2 linked regions of the Homo sapiens genome follow. The protein of the gene in region 1 interacts with the protein of each later gene in a biochemical or structural test. Each region holds a gene or a part of one and is shown on either strand. Other genes may lie near its edges.

Region 1 (7,759 bases):
TCTACAGAAAATATGTCATAAATAAGATTCAATTATCTAAAGGATGACTGGCAGACCATAAATCCAAACAAGAAATTTAATATATATTCACTGTTTGTATTAGTCCGTTTTCACACTGCTGATAAAGACATACCCGAGACTAGGCAACTTATAAAAGAAAGAGGTTTAATGGATTCACAGTTCCACTTGGCTGAGGAGGCCTGACAATCATGACGGAAAGTGAAAGGCACGTCTCACATGGCAGCAGACAAGAGAAGAGAACTTGCACAGGGAAACTTCCCTTTATAAAACCATCAGATCTCGTGAGACATTTACTATCACAAGAATAGCACAAGAAAGACACATCCCCATGATTCAATTATCTGCCACCAGGTCCCTCCCACAACATGTGGGAATTATGAAAACTACAATTCAAGATAAGATTTGAGTGGGGACACAGCCAAACCATATCACTATTTAAAAACTTACTTTGCTAATATTTCATCCTATACATATTTAACATACAGTAGCCTCCTTTGACACTCACAAATTTAATCACATCTCTTATTCCTAAGAAATTATTAGGTAGAAACGACTTTGTGTTAGTTTGAAAGAAGTCCATAACCCTCAGAAAGAACTGGATTGCAGAAAGGTCAAATACGGAAGCCTAAGATTTCTAAATTCTTCCTGAATCAGGTATTTACAGTACAATGTAAATATTTTTGTTGAAAATACACTTTCAGAATATCTAACACATACACATAAATATGCACAAACTTAGTAAATATAAAGCAGATATAGAGATTTATGTATTATCTCCCATTTCGAATTATCCATATATTTTTATGCATCCTTCCTCTATCTAGAATGACTCCATGGGAGCTCATTAACCTGTTTCCCCACCTCCAAAAAAAACCGACTCAAAGTTACCTGTTTCAAATTAATGTATTTTAACTTTGATATCAATTTCCTGATGTAGCTACAACAAAGAATAACTAAAATTTAAAAGGTTGCTTTCTATCCCACTTCCAGATTAAAATTAAAAAGACACACTTCTCCCTATTTCTATCAATAAATAGAGCTAAAAAGTTTGGACATTTTATTAAAACAAATTTAAGAGGATTCTGGAATGCAGAGGGAAGGCAGACTAACTAGGGACCTGGGAATCCAAGGAATGACAAAGCAGTGAGTTCTGTGAGTTTTCTTTTAGCCTCATATATCCCAAACTGGGGAGTGGAATAGCCAGCAACCAGGAAACACCAACAGGCACAAAAGCCCCAATAAAAGTCAATCCTCTGTAACAAAAGGGCCATCCATGAAAGGCACAATCTAGCAAGACAGAAAACTTTTAGACAATAAACATCCTACACCAACCAAATACCATGGAAAAAAAATTTAAAAAAAAACACGCATGGCCCTAACTTTGAAACTTTTAATCAACAGTAAACAATGACTCAAACAAAATACTTTCTTCTAAATAGTCATAGTGTAGGCCTATTGAACAATGTCCCTATAGGACACTGAAAAGACACACTGCTCACCTTTTTCCTTATTTCCAAGTTTCGCCTTTATTTTTAAACCACCTCTGTCACAAAAGGCCGAGTACTGAGCCTAGATTTCCACTCTCGCCCCAGCAACAATGCAGTGCCCATAGATGACCTCGATGTGGTATCAGAGAAAACCAAGTGGTTGTGAAGACAGTTTTAGGACTTCTATCCCCATCCAAAAGGAAAAAGACTCTCTCTCCCTCCTTTCCTGTGTCAGAGGAAGCTGAGTGGGAAGCCAGAACTTTTATAACTATCCAGAGGTAAGAAGATCTCACCTAATCTCACAGTAAGGCACCCGTGGAACAGTAATAAGGTGCCTCTCCTGCTCCCAGCCAGGGATGTATCTGCTAAGGCCTGTGGGAGCCCTGAAATCCCACCTTATCTCAGGAGTAAGGCAGTATCCCTCCTACCCAGGGTGTCAAAGGGGGCTGAGTGGAAAACTTGTCATTTTACTTGCACCTGACATTAACAAAATGGTTAATCTTTTCCCAAACTATACAGTATCAGATGAGGCCTGCTAAAATACAAGATTTAAATAAGATCCAAGGTATCATACAAAATACCCAAAATATGCAGGATAAAATTAAAATGCACTCATCATACTAAGAATCAGAAAAATCTCAACTTGGGTAAGAAAATACTATCAATAGTAACACTGAGATGACATTTTTCTAACAAGGATTTTAAAGCAACCATAATAAAAATGCTTCGGCAGGGAATTATGAAACATGCTTGAAACAAACAGAATAGAAAGTTTAAGCACAGAATGGAAGATATGAAGGAGAACCAAATGGAAATTTTAGAACTGAAATATACAATAACCAAATAAAAAACAAAGAATTGGCACATCAAATGAATGGAAGGGACTGAGGATAGAAATGCTTTCCTCAGAGATGGTATGGTGACATACAAACTGAACAGTATGCCTACTTTAACTTCGATTTGGCTATGAGACCTCCTGGTACATTTTTCTATAATTTATTTAGCCAAGGTGTTTAACACTCCGTAAGTTACTCTTTTATTCCCATGCTATAAAAAGGAGAGAGAAGCCTATAGGTCCTAAAATGAAGTCATCTGAAAAAAGTTTTCTTTGAAAGTACTGATTCCTACAAAAGGAACTAGCTTTGAAGACTCAAGTCATCACTCCTAGATTATCACTATTAATAGTAAACGCAGTGAGACAACAATGATAATGCCAGATAGCATTTATATTGGTCATTAATGTAAAAACAACCCAAAGTGATATACGTTAAGTCTCACGTAGTCTCTCTGATATGTTACTGTTCCCATTTATAGATGGAAAAACTGAACTCTCAAAGATGTATGTCTCACTAAAGGGTCCAGAATAAGTCATTCAGTGGAGACAAAGAAACACAAAGTTATCTCATTATTCAGTACTATGCCTTTTAATCAGCACCATAGTTCCAAGGATGAGGTCAGTAAGTGTGGCTATACACAATGTAATTAGTCCTTGGGGAGCAGGGTGCATGATATTAGTTCATCTATTCAATTCATCCAACAGTATTCATTGAACATGCACTATATGCCAAGTACTACTGGGAAGGAAAACTCCTTAATCTCAAGGAATTTACACTGTAGTGGAGAAAAGACAGAAAATAAACAAATCAAAATAAAATAACAGGTAGGAATAAGCGGTATGGAAAAGAAAAAAATAAAAAGGGCTAGGGGATGCTGAGCAAGTACAAAGGGCCTTATTTTATACAGCACGATTAAGAAAAGCCTCCACAAGAGTAGCATTTGAGCAAATATCAGAAGGAAGCTAGAGTTCAGCGAGAGCTGTTAAAAGTATAATTTTCAAAAAGTTAATCTGACTCATGTAAATACCAATTGAAGATATACCAAAGATTTATTCTGTTCATTTACTAATGAATTAATCATTTATCTTAAGACTGAATGAATATTAAGACTGGTTCAAGAAGCATTTGAAGAACAGGATTTATATAGGAAATTTAACAATGGAGTGTTAACTAGGAGCAATAGGTTAGAGACGAAACTGGTTAATATCCTATAAGACCGAATGAATAAGATGCTAAGACTGGTTTAAGCAGCATGTGAAGAACAGGATTTAGATAGGAAATTTAACAACATGGAGTGTTGGACTAAAAGCACTAGGTTAGAGATAAAACTTGTTAATATCCTACAGGGCAATTAATTATATTCTTAGAAGTTATCTTTTCTAACAGACAGAATTATTCGCATCTCTTCAGGGGAAAAAATCTATAAATTAACATGTAACTTCACTACATCTGAGACTTTTATTCAAGAATAAACAGTGAGTCAAATAAAGTACTTTCTCCTAAGTACTCCTGAGGTGGGCACATTAAACAATGTCATCACAGGCACTGAAAAGACACACTGCCTGCGTTTTTCTTATTTCCAAGTTTTGTATTTTTAAGAAACTTATCTACAGGAGGAACAGCATTCCAGGCAGAGATATGTGAGTGAATCATGGACCATACCCCTCCAACAGGCAAAGAATGTCCTTCCCCACGCATACTCACACATTCACCTATACCTTATTATAAAGCTTGGTGTAAATAAATACCTGAGGGTAAACTGGAGAAGCTTGAAAATGTATATTGGAATGAAAATAGGAATTGAGTCTGGGATCTGATTTGATTTACATTTTTAAAACACTACTCTTACCTGCTGAATTAAAAACTCATGAAGGAAAAGAACAAGGATGGAAGCCAGAAGACCACTTAGGAGACTATTACAGTGATCCAGGCAAATAAACAAGTAAATATATAATTTGTCAAATGTAAAAGGTGCTAGGAATAAAAATAAAGCAGACTATGATAAGGTGGATGGAGAGGATGTCAGCATTGTCTGGAAAGGCTTATCTGATAAGGTAATACTTGAACAGAGACTTGAAGGCTATGAAGAAAACCATGCAGGTATCTGAGGGAATCTGAGCACTCTGGACATTAGGAAAAAGAAAAATGACTGAGGAAAAAGAGGCAAGGAAAAGAGAGGAAGAAGGGACATAAGGGAACACAGAGCCTTGAAAACCAGTTTAAGGACCTGGCTTTTAGTGTGGGAAAGATAAGAAGCCCACGAAGGTTTTAGAACAGAATAATGACATGACTAGCTTTAAGTTTCAATCAGATCACAGTGGCTGCAATGGGGGGAATGGTCTGCACGTGGGCAGTGACAAAAACAAAAGACTAGTTAGAATATACTTTAGTAATCCAAGGGAGAAATAATGATAATATACAATATGTTAATAGCGCTGACCATGATGATAAATGGTTGAAACCTGGATATTCTGAAGGTACAGCCAACAAATCCTGCTAAAGAAACAGACATTGAGTAAGTACAAAAAGGAATGAGTTAGTTTTAGTCTTAGCAATTAGAAAGATGGAGTTGCCATTTACTGTGTTAGGTTAGACTGTAGAAGAAATAAATAAGAAAATTTAGGAAGGAGAAAAGGAGACAATTTATTTAAAAAAGTTAAGTGTCTCAGTTCTGGATTACAGGATTCTAAATGTAATTCAAATGTAATTATTATAACAAAAATTAGAATAAACAGTTCCCAAAATGTATCCATCAGAAACAGAATATTTCTTACCAAATTGTTTGGGCCTCAAACTACTAATCCTCAGGGCTGCTCACAGACTCATATTTTTCAAAATGGGTGTCTTCCCATTAATTTAGCCCATGTTGGTCAGTTTTATATATTTAAGCAAGTATCTGATTCTTCATTCATAAGATATTCATTATGCACTTTTTGAAATTATAGCACATGCTTCATCAAAAGGCTTACATTTTAAATCTTAAGTTCAATCGCCTTACCTGAAGTTCTTTGTATCTATCTTGAAAAGAAATGGCCTCTTGCTCTTTTTCTTTTAGAAAGCCTTTTTCTAAGACATTATGCTTTTCCATCAATGATTCCACATCCTAAAATAAAAATACAAATACAAGCTTTGTAATATTTAATGGCATAAAATATAATTAGTTTTTTCAATGAACATGTCAGAAAACATTTGTCAGAGAAAGAATCCATGGGAAGTACGGCTTAAAATCTAACAATATTATAAATTATATGCTTCACTCTAATTTCTAGGCCAATATCAAACATGGACACAACATTTACTCATTCCAACAAATGAATATGAGCATCTCAACTAATTTCATCAACATAATCTACCTCTACATACACTTTCTATAAATTTGCTATATATTCACAGGGAAGAAAGCATAAGTAAAGAATTTACTAAAATGGCTGTATACCTAAGTACTCTTGTCAAATATCCTGTGATGCCTAACTTCCCATAGGGAAAAGTTGATGTCGCAAAATTTCACCTCCTCATAAGAAACACAATACTACCTGCTTTCAAAGTAAATAAAAATAAACCAAAAAAGAAAGCAATAGTTAGAAAAAACCTAGTAAACGATGTTCATATCTTTAAAAGTACATATGTAAAATATATTTCTTATCAAAGGCTTTTCTAAGTGATAAGCTCATGACTGCTTTAAACCTACAACCAAGGGAGAAAAGTATCTTCTTCCTCTGATGAGTTTTTAATCAGAGTTTGAGATTATATCAAATTTCTAATATTTGCAATTCAAACATTTCTTAGGCAAATGTAAATATACCTGTTTAATTCTCTGTTTTTCTTCTTCAGATACTTTGAGTTTAATCTCCAGACTTGAAATTTTTTGCTGAAGCTGTATGTTAGATACATTGGCTCCAGGATCCTCAGAATCATCCACAAGGGCAATTGTTCCATTACTTTTTTCATCAGTTAAACCCAATGGAAAAAGTGAGATATCCAGATGAGTGTGTGTTGATTGCTGAATCTAAACCACATAAAAAAAAAAATACACAAGAGAGGAAAGTTTACACTATACCAATAATGAAAACATCCAAAGGGCACTAGAAACCACATTTGGAAATTAAGTTGTTGAAAAGGTTCCGAAATTATTTCACCCTTTAAGTAAATCAAGAGAAGACCTCAAACTTTTACAACAACCCGATCTTTGCTGTAAGAAACAAAATTTCCTCTTAATTTTGAAATCTAAAGTATTCATTATTTTGCTACCAATGCACTAAAAGACTTAACTTTTTCCTGTGCTTGAAAATGTATGAATAAGGATAGACATATCTGGTTGTTAACAGTTCTTAAATTTACACACAGACCTAGAATTTGTTTATATTTTAAACTGTAAATCAAACTCTGAAATTTATCAATGACCTCTATTGATCACCACTGTCTCGCAAAATTAACAGGTGACTCAAAATTGTGTACAGCACTTTAGAAATTGGGACTACCTTCAGCAGCTAGCATAAATTCTTGCTTTAAAAAATATTTGAATGAATAAACCTTATAACTGCTATATTTTTGGTTTTTACTCTAAAATTGAAATAGTTGCTTGAATACCTGAAAATGTGCGGTAAGATTCGCTGAAAAGAGAAATACTTATTCTTCTTTGTATTATTTTCCCTTTTCAAGTTCAAGATTTGAAATGCAAAGCCAAGTAAAGTTTAATAAATGAGATACTCAAATCATACTTTGGTAACTAAGGCTACTTAAATACTTTGCAATTGTGCCACGACACAAACATATTATATAGTTTTTTTGAATTCTAAGTATTAGCCTCAAAATTAGAATATCTATTGCAGAAATACTTCTTTTAGACAAATAGGCTAAAAAAGAAATTAAAAAAGCAACAATTAAATTAGCAGGCAATTTTTTAAATATGCAAACCTCCTTTAAAAATATGTTTGTCTTTACCTGTGCTTTTGGAATAGTTTGACTCACAATGCTATTTGCTGCATGTGTATTCTCTGGTGATGAAATAATGGCATCAGAAGAGAGGCAGCCAATGGAAGAAGAGTGGTCACGGTCCAGTACAATCTCAGGAGAAGATGGTGAAAGATGGACTCCAGATACTAAAGAAAAACAACAACAACAAAAAGGATAGGATTATTAAAGAGAAAACAGAGAGGGAACAGGTTGAAAGGAAGAAAGAGAGCTGAAATAGAGGAAAAGAAAAAAGTAAGGAAAGTAAAAGCAATGAGAGTGAAAAATCAGGATTCTATGACTATTCCTCAGGGCCCAATCTGTGAAAGCTAAAACTAGTGTTTTTAATTTAACATGACACTTCCATGTAAGATCCAGGCAAACAAAATAGTTTTATAAAGTCTTAGTGTTTACATACCAACACAGTGCCATAAGGAGTACATTTCCAACATAGAGAAAATACTC
Region 2 (7,759 bases), on another chromosome or scaffold:
CTCCGTTTTCTTTTGGGGGCAGTTGCTTGTTCTTTGGTCTGACCTCTGTCATTGATAGCAGTTCTAGATTTGAGGGCAGATTTTAGAGTGAAACTTTAAAGTACAGAATTTGCCAGGAATGCCTTGGTGATATTTCACCCCAGTGTTTATTTAAAAAAGGAGTTTTAAAAATCAGTGGTATGCAAACAAAACCAACTTCTTTATGATTTATAAAAACTCTTTTTTTTTTTTTTTATTATTTTTATTGTTTGAGACAGGGTCTCACTCTGTTGCCCAGGCTGGAGTGCAGTGGTCTCAGCTCACTGCAGCCTGGACCTCCTGGACTCAAGCGATCCTCCTGCCTCAGCCCTCCACGTAGCTGGGACTACAGGCGTGTGCTACCACGCAGGGCTAATTTTTGTATTTTTTGTATAGATAGTGTTTTGTCATGTTGCCCAGGCTGGGCTCAAGCAATCCTCTTGCCTCGGCCTCGCAAAGTGCTGAGATTACAGGTGTGAGCCACCTCACCTGGCCAAAACTTTTAATTTATACAAATTTAAAAAGTTGAATGAGTATTTTCCAAGATATTATTTTTAATTAAAAAAATTGAATTGGCAATCTACATACCAAAACAGATTTTCCACAATGCTTAATCCCCTTATTTGCATTTGATGAGGATTTTAAAATTTTGTGTATATAGCAGGACTTAATTGCTATCAAAACTTTAAAACTCTTACTTAGAGCTTCAGAACATTTAAAAATACTGTTTTAGGTGTTTGTAATTTAGTCTGTCCTTGCTTTATGAATTGTTTTCAGTTCTTTTTTGTTTGTTTTTTGAGACAAAGTCTTACTCTGTCTCCCAGGCTGGAGTGCAGTGGCTCGATCTCGGCTCACTGTGCAACCTCCACCTCCTGGATTCCAGTGATTTCTGCTGCCTCAGCCTCCCGAGTAGCTGGGATTACAAGCGTGCGCCACCATGCCCAGCTAATTTTTGTATTTTTAGTAGAGGCGGGGTTTCACCATGTTGGCTAGGCTGGTCTCGAACTCCTGAGCTCAAGTGATCCACCCACCTTGGCCTCCCAAAGTGCTGGGATTACAGGCAGGAGGAGCCACTGCGTTCAGTCTGTTTTCGGTTCTTGATTTTGGCTTTCTTTATTCTCTGTTGCTTTTACTCAGTTTCTAATGCAGAATAATGTTGAAAGTAGCAAACAATTTTTTTTCAACTCCTCTCAGCTTATAAGTAACAAGCAATTTTATTTTTATTGATTGATTGATTGAGACAGGTTCTCACTCTTTCACCCAGGCTGGAGTGCAGTGGTGCAATCTCAGCTCACTGCAGCCTCGACCTCCTCCCAGGTTCAAGTGATCCTCCCACTTCAGCCTCCTAAGTAGCTGGGACTGTAGGCATGTGCCGCCTGATTTATTATTTTTTTGTGGAGACGGGGATTCGCCATGTTGCCCAGGCTGGTTTCAAATTCCTGGGCTCAAGAGGTCCTCCCACCTCTGTCTCCCAAAGTGCTGGTATTAAAGGTGTGTGCCACCATGCCTTGCCCACAAGCAATTTTAAACTTAAGAGAGCAGGCTGGTGCAGTGGTTCATGCCTGTAATCCCAGCACTTTGGGAGGCCGAGGCAGGCGGATCACTTGAGGTCAGGAGTTTGATACTAGCCTGGTCAACATGATGAAATCCCGTCTGTACTAAAAATACAAAAGTTAGCCGGGCATGGTGATGTGCACCTGCATTCCCAGCTACTTAGGAGGCTCAGGTGGGAGGATTGCTTGAACAGGGAGGTGGAGGTTGCAGTGAGCTGAGATCACGCCACTGCACTCCAGCCTGGGTGACAGATGGAGGCTCTGTCTCAAAAAAAAAAAAAAAAAATTAAGAGAGCATATAGAAATCTTTTGTATTTCTTGGCTTACAGGTTTTGAAATGATCTTTGTTGGCTGGGCGAGGTGGCTCATGCCTGTAATCCCAGCACTTTGGGAGGCCGAGGCGGGTGGATCACGAGGTCAGGAGATCGAGACCATCCTGGCCAACATGGTTAAACCCCATCTCTACAAAAAAATAGAAAAATTAGCTGGGCATGATGGTGCGCGCCTGTAGTCCCAGCTACTCGGGAGACTGAGGCAGGAGAATCACTTGAACCTGGGAGGTGGAGGTTGTGGTGAGCTGAGATCACGCCACTGCACTCCAGCCTGGGGACAGAGCGAGACTCTTGTCTCCAAAAAAAAAATAAATAAATAAAATATGTTTATCAAAATGTAGTAGCATTTTTACAGTTGCCTTTTTGTATAGAAAATTTTATTTCAATGAGGTCAAGAAATAGAAAAGGGAAAAGAGGTGTCTTTTTTTTTTTTTTTTTTGAGACGGAGTCCTCCTCTGTTGCCCAGGCTGGAGTGCATCGGAGCCATCTCTGCTTACTGCAACCTCCGCCCCCTGGTTCAAGCAATTCTTCTGCCTCAGCCTCCCGAGTAGCTGGGACTACAGGTGTGCGCCACCATGCCTAGCTAATTTTTGTATTTTTAGTAGAGACAGGGCTTCACCCTGTTGACCAGGCTGATCTTGAATTCCTGGGCTCAAGTGATCCACCAGCCTTGGCCTCCCAAAGTGCTGGGATTACAGGCATGAATGAGGTGTCATTTTTACTTTGAAGATACGTGTTAAGTTTTTTTCTTCACTGACCTAGTAACACAATACACTTAATATGGCATGAGTTTTGGTTGCTGGAAAAACTGGTTAAAGTTTGAAGGGTCCAGAAGTGGGAGAAAAAAAACTCACTTGCCAAATGTGTTGAGTCAGCATTAACTAACACTTTAGCATAAAAGGGCAAGGTTTAGGATGAGATGATTGAAATGAGAAATGCTTTTTTTCACTAGGTACTTGGAAATTTTACTTTAAAAAAAAGCCTACTCAGACCATTGGAGAGATTTAATTAGTAAATCATAAATGTTGGCAACAAATTAAGTAGGTTTAGAAGGAAGAAGTCATTTTTTTAAAAGATGAGGAAAAAATACATGTGACTTTTGTAATTTATAAATAAAAACATCTTATTATTTATTTATTTATTCTTTTTGAGACAGAGTCTCACTCTGTCACCCAGGCTGGAGTGCAGTGGTGCCATCTCAGCTTACTACAGCCTCTACCTCCTGGGTTCCCGCGATTCTTGTGCTCAGCCTCCCGAGTAGCTGGGACTGCAGGCGTGCACCACTGTACCTGGCTACTTTTTGTATTTTTAGTGGAGACGGGGTTTTGTCACGTTGGCCAGGCTGGTCTCGAAATCCTGACCTCAGGTGATTCACCTGCTTCAGCCTCCCAAAGTGCTGGGATTATAGGTGTGAGCCACCGAGCCTGGCTAAAATATTTTAAATCTTTCAAAGATATGTAAAGATGTTACGTGTTTTCTCAACCTAAAAATAAACTTCGCTGGCCAGACCTGGTGGCTCATGTCTGTAATCCCAGTACTTTGGGAAGCCAAGTCAGAAGGATCACTTGAGGACAGGAGTTTGAAACCAGCCTGGGAAACACAGTGGGACTCTGGCTGTACGAATTTTTTTTTTGAGACAGAGTCTTGCTCTGTCACCCAGGCTGGAGTGCAGTGGTGCGATCTCGGCTCACCTCAACCTCCGCCTCCTGGGTTCAAGCGATTCTTCTGCCTCAGCCTCCCAAGTAGCTAGAATTACAGGCGCCCGCCACCATGCCCAGTTAATTTTTGTACTTTTAGTAGAGATGGGGTTTCACCATGTTGGACAGGCTGGTCTTGACCTCCTGACCTCAGGTGATCCACCCACCTCGGCCTCCCAAAGTGCCGGGATTACAGGCATGAGCTACCGCGCCTGGCCCAAAATTTTTTAAAGTAGCTGGGTTGTGGTGTCTTTGCCAGTAGCCTTAGCTGCCTGGGAGCCTGAGGCAGGAAGATCACTTGAACCCAGGAGTTCAAGGCTGCAGTGAGCTAAGACTGTGCCACTGCACTCCAGCCTGGGTGACAGAGATAGACTGTCTCAAAAAAAAGAGGTAAGTAAAAAACGCTTCTTTTGCTTCCTTTTAAGACTGAACACTTTTTCAGTTGTTTAGTTTTGAGGTTTAGTTAAATAGGTTCACTAACTTGAGCTGTAAAAACACTAATGGAACTCCTTTTACTTTGAGTTGTACAACTGTATAATCATTTATATAAGTTAGCTCTTTCAACCAAATACACATTGAGTATCTCTTATCTGAAATGCTTGAGACCAGAAATGTTTCATATTTTGGATTTTTTCAGATTTTGGAATATTTGCGTTACACCACTTGTACATCCCTAATCCTAAAATCCAAAATCTGAAACACTTGCAGAGCATTTTTTTCTTTTCTTTTTTTTTTTTTTTTTTGGTTACGGAGTCTCGCCCTGTCGCCCAGGCTGGAGTGCAGTGGCGCAATCTCGGCTCACTGCAAGCTCCGCCTCCCGGGTTCATGCCATTCTCCTGCCTCAGTCTCCAGAGTAGCTGGGACTGCAGGCGCCCGCCACCACGCCTGGCTAATTTTTTGTATTTTCAGTAGAGACGGGCTTTCACCATGTTAGCCAGGATGGTCGTGATCTCCTGACCTTGTGATCTGCCCGCCTCAGCCTCCCCTGCTGGGATAACAGGCGTGACCCACCGCGCCCGGCCTTGAAGAGCATTTCTTCAAGCATCATGTCAACAATCAAAAAATGTCAGGTTTTGGAGAATTTCAGATTTTGGATTAGGGATGTTTACCCTATAGTGTTTACCCTGTAGTGTTACATCATCTGTTCTATGACAGTCTTAATTTTAACCCCAAATTTTAACAGATTATGAATGAATTTACGCTTCAATATTTCTCTCAATGCTTAGTTAAGTACTGTACATACTCACGTAAGTGTACATAGGAATTTTTTGTTTTTACTAAAGAGAGATCATATTATTTATATTACTCTATGACACGCTTTTTTTTTTTTTTAACATGTCATGGTCAGTAAATATAATTCTTTTTTTTTGTTTGTTTGTTTTTTTTGAGATGGAGTCTTACCCTGTCACCCAGGTGGTGGGAATCTCCGCCTCCTGGGTTCAGTGATTCTCCTGCCTCAGACTTCAGAGTAGCTGGGATTATAGGCACCTGCCACCACACCCAGATAATTTTTGTATTTTTAGTAGAGATGAGGTTTCGCCATGTTGGCCTGGCTGGTATCAAACTCCTGACCTTAAGTGATCTGCCTGCCTTGGCCTCCCAAAGTGCTGGGATTACAGGCATGAGCCACCGCGCCCAGCCAATATAATTCATTTTTGTTTTGTTTTTTTGAGACGGAGTTTTGCTTTTGCTGCCCAGGCTGGAGTGCAATGGCGTGATCTCAGCTCACCGCAACCTCCGCCTCCCAGGTTCAAGTGATTCTCCTGCCTCAGCCTCCCGAGTAGTTGGGATTACAGACATGTGCCACCATGCCCCGCTAAGTTTGTATTTTTAGTAGAGATGGGGTTTCTTTCTTTTTTTTTTTTGAGACGGAGTCTCGCTGTGTTGCCCAGGCTGGAGTGCAGTGGCGCGATCCCAGCTCACTGCAAGTTCTGCCTCCCAGGTTCACGCCATTCTCCTGCGTCAGCCTCCCGAGTAGCTGGGACTACAGGCACCCACCACCACGCCTGGCTAATGTTCTGTATTTTTAGTAGAGATGGGGTTTCACCATGTTAGCCAGGATGGTCTCCATCTCCTGACCTCGTGATCTGCCCACCTTGGCCTCCCAAAGTGCTAGGATTAAAGGCGTGAGCCCCCGCACCCGACCCGAGACGGGGGGGTTTCTCCATGTTGGTCAGGCTGGTTTTGAACTCCCGACCTCACATGATCCTCCCACCTTGGCCTCCCAAAGTGCTAGGATTACAGGTGTGAGCCACCGTGCCTGGCCAATATAATTCTTTTTTTTTTTTTTTTTGAGATGGGGAGTCTTGCTCTATCACCCAGGCTAGAGTGCAGTGGTGCGATCTCGGCTCACTGCAAGCTCCACCTCCTGGGTTCACGCCATTCTCCTGCCTCAGCCTCCCGAGTAGCTGGGACTACAGGCGCCCACCACCACACCCGGCTAATTTTTTTGTATTTTTTTTTTTAGTAGAGACAGAGTTTCACCATGTTAACCAGGATGGTCTTGATCTCCTGACCTCGTGATCCACCTGCCTCGGCCTCCCAAAGTGCTGGGATTACAGGCGTGAGCCACCGTGCCCGGCAATATAATTCTTTATTATTATTTTTTTAAAAGATGACATTTTGCTATGTTGCTCAGGCTGATCTCGAACTCCTGGGCTTGAGCAATCTGCCTGCATCGGCCTCCCAAAGTGCTGGGGTTACAGGCGTGAGCCACCGCACCCAGCCAATATAATTTTTTATTATTATTATTATTATTATTATTTTTAAGATGGAACCTCGCTCTGTCACGAAGGCTGGAGTGCAGTGGCGCAGTCTCGGCTCACTGCATGCTCTGCTTCCTGGGTTCACGCCATTCTCCTGCATCAGCCTCCCGAGTAGCTGGGACTGCAGGCACCTGTCACCACACCCCGCTAATTTTCTGTATTTTTAGTAGAATTGGGTTTCACCATGTTAGCCAGGATGGTCTTGATCTCCTGACTTCATGATCCGCCTACCTTGGCCTCCCAAAGTGCTGGGATTACAGGTGTGAGCCACCGCTCCCAGCCTATTAGTTTTTTAATAAGAGATGAGATATAGCTGTATTGCTCAGGCTGGTCTCAAACTCCTGGACTTGAGCAGTCTGCCTCCTGTGGCCTCCCAAAGTGCTGAGATTACAGGTGTGAGCCACTGCACTCAGCCCACAGTAAATATAATTCTATCTTGTTCCTTTAAACAGTCCTATTGTGTCTTATAGCGTGGATGTACCATAATTTATTATTTTCCTGTGGACATTTAGATCATTTCTAGATTTTTGCCACTTAACAAAGTGCTACAATAAATATCCTTGTACATGCCGCCTTATATGCTGATGCTTTTATTTCTGTAGTCTCCAAAGGGGGAATTCTGGGTTAACAGAGAAATATATTTTAAATATTATTATTGCTAGATTACTCTCTAAATAGGTTATCATAATTTTCATCCCAAATAGCAGTAACTTCTCCATATCATGAAACCACTGGGTATAAATACATAGTTTAATTTTTACTAGTCTGCTAGATGATAAATGGGTCATGCAGTTTGTCTTAATTTTAACTTCCCTGTTACTGGGGCTAGCCTTATTTGATACGTATAATAGCCATTGGATTTCCTTTACCGAGAATTGTCTGCTCATGTCCTTGCTTCATTTTTCTTTCTCTTTTTTTTTCCTCCTGTAGGAGCGCTTATGGAATGTTAATTCTTTGTTATATGGCACGTGTATTTTTCTTGTCTTTCATTTATCCTTTTTTTTTTTCCTGGGAGACAGAGTCTCACCCTTGTCGCCCAGGCTAGAGTGCAGTGGTGTGATCTCGGCTCACTGCAGCCTCTGCCTCCTGGGTTCAAGCAATTCTCCTGCCTCAGCTTCCTGGGTAGCTGGGATTACAGGTGCCCGCCACCATGCCCGGCTAATTTTTGTACTTTTAGTAGAGACAGAGATTCGCCATGTTGGCCAGGCTGGTCTCAAACTCCTGACCTCAGGTGATCTGCCTGCCTCTGCCTTCCAAAGTGCTGGGATTACAGGCGTGAGCCACCGCACCACGCCCGGCCTCATTTATCTTTTAATCTTATTTATGTCACAGACATTTTCAGGTAATTATATATATCCCTCTTTTCCTCTTTGGTTTCTGAAACTGTCTTAGAA

Evidence for each region. The genes of interacting proteins can lie anywhere in the genome.
Region 2: the proteins of CCDC91 (region 1) and AP1G1 form a complex in vitro, tested with the Homo sapiens proteins (one study listed by BioGRID).

The regions. Positions count from the first base shown.
Region 1 is NC_000012.12:28,305,333-28,313,091, reverse strand, and holds part of CCDC91 (coiled-coil domain-containing protein 91), read right to left. Parts: intron 7,444-7,759; coding exon 7,286-7,443; intron 6,351-7,285; coding exon 6,147-6,350; intron 5,448-6,146; coding exon 5,343-5,447; intron 1-5,342. UniProt on the Homo sapiens protein: Involved in the regulation of membrane traffic through the trans-Golgi network (TGN). Functions in close cooperation with the GGAs in the sorting of hydrolases to lysosomes.
Region 2 is NC_000016.10:71,798,507-71,806,265, reverse strand, and holds part of AP1G1 (AP-1 complex subunit gamma-1), read left to right. Parts: intron 1-7,759. UniProt on the Homo sapiens protein: Subunit of clathrin-associated adaptor protein complex 1 that plays a role in protein sorting in the late-Golgi/trans-Golgi network (TGN) and/or endosomes.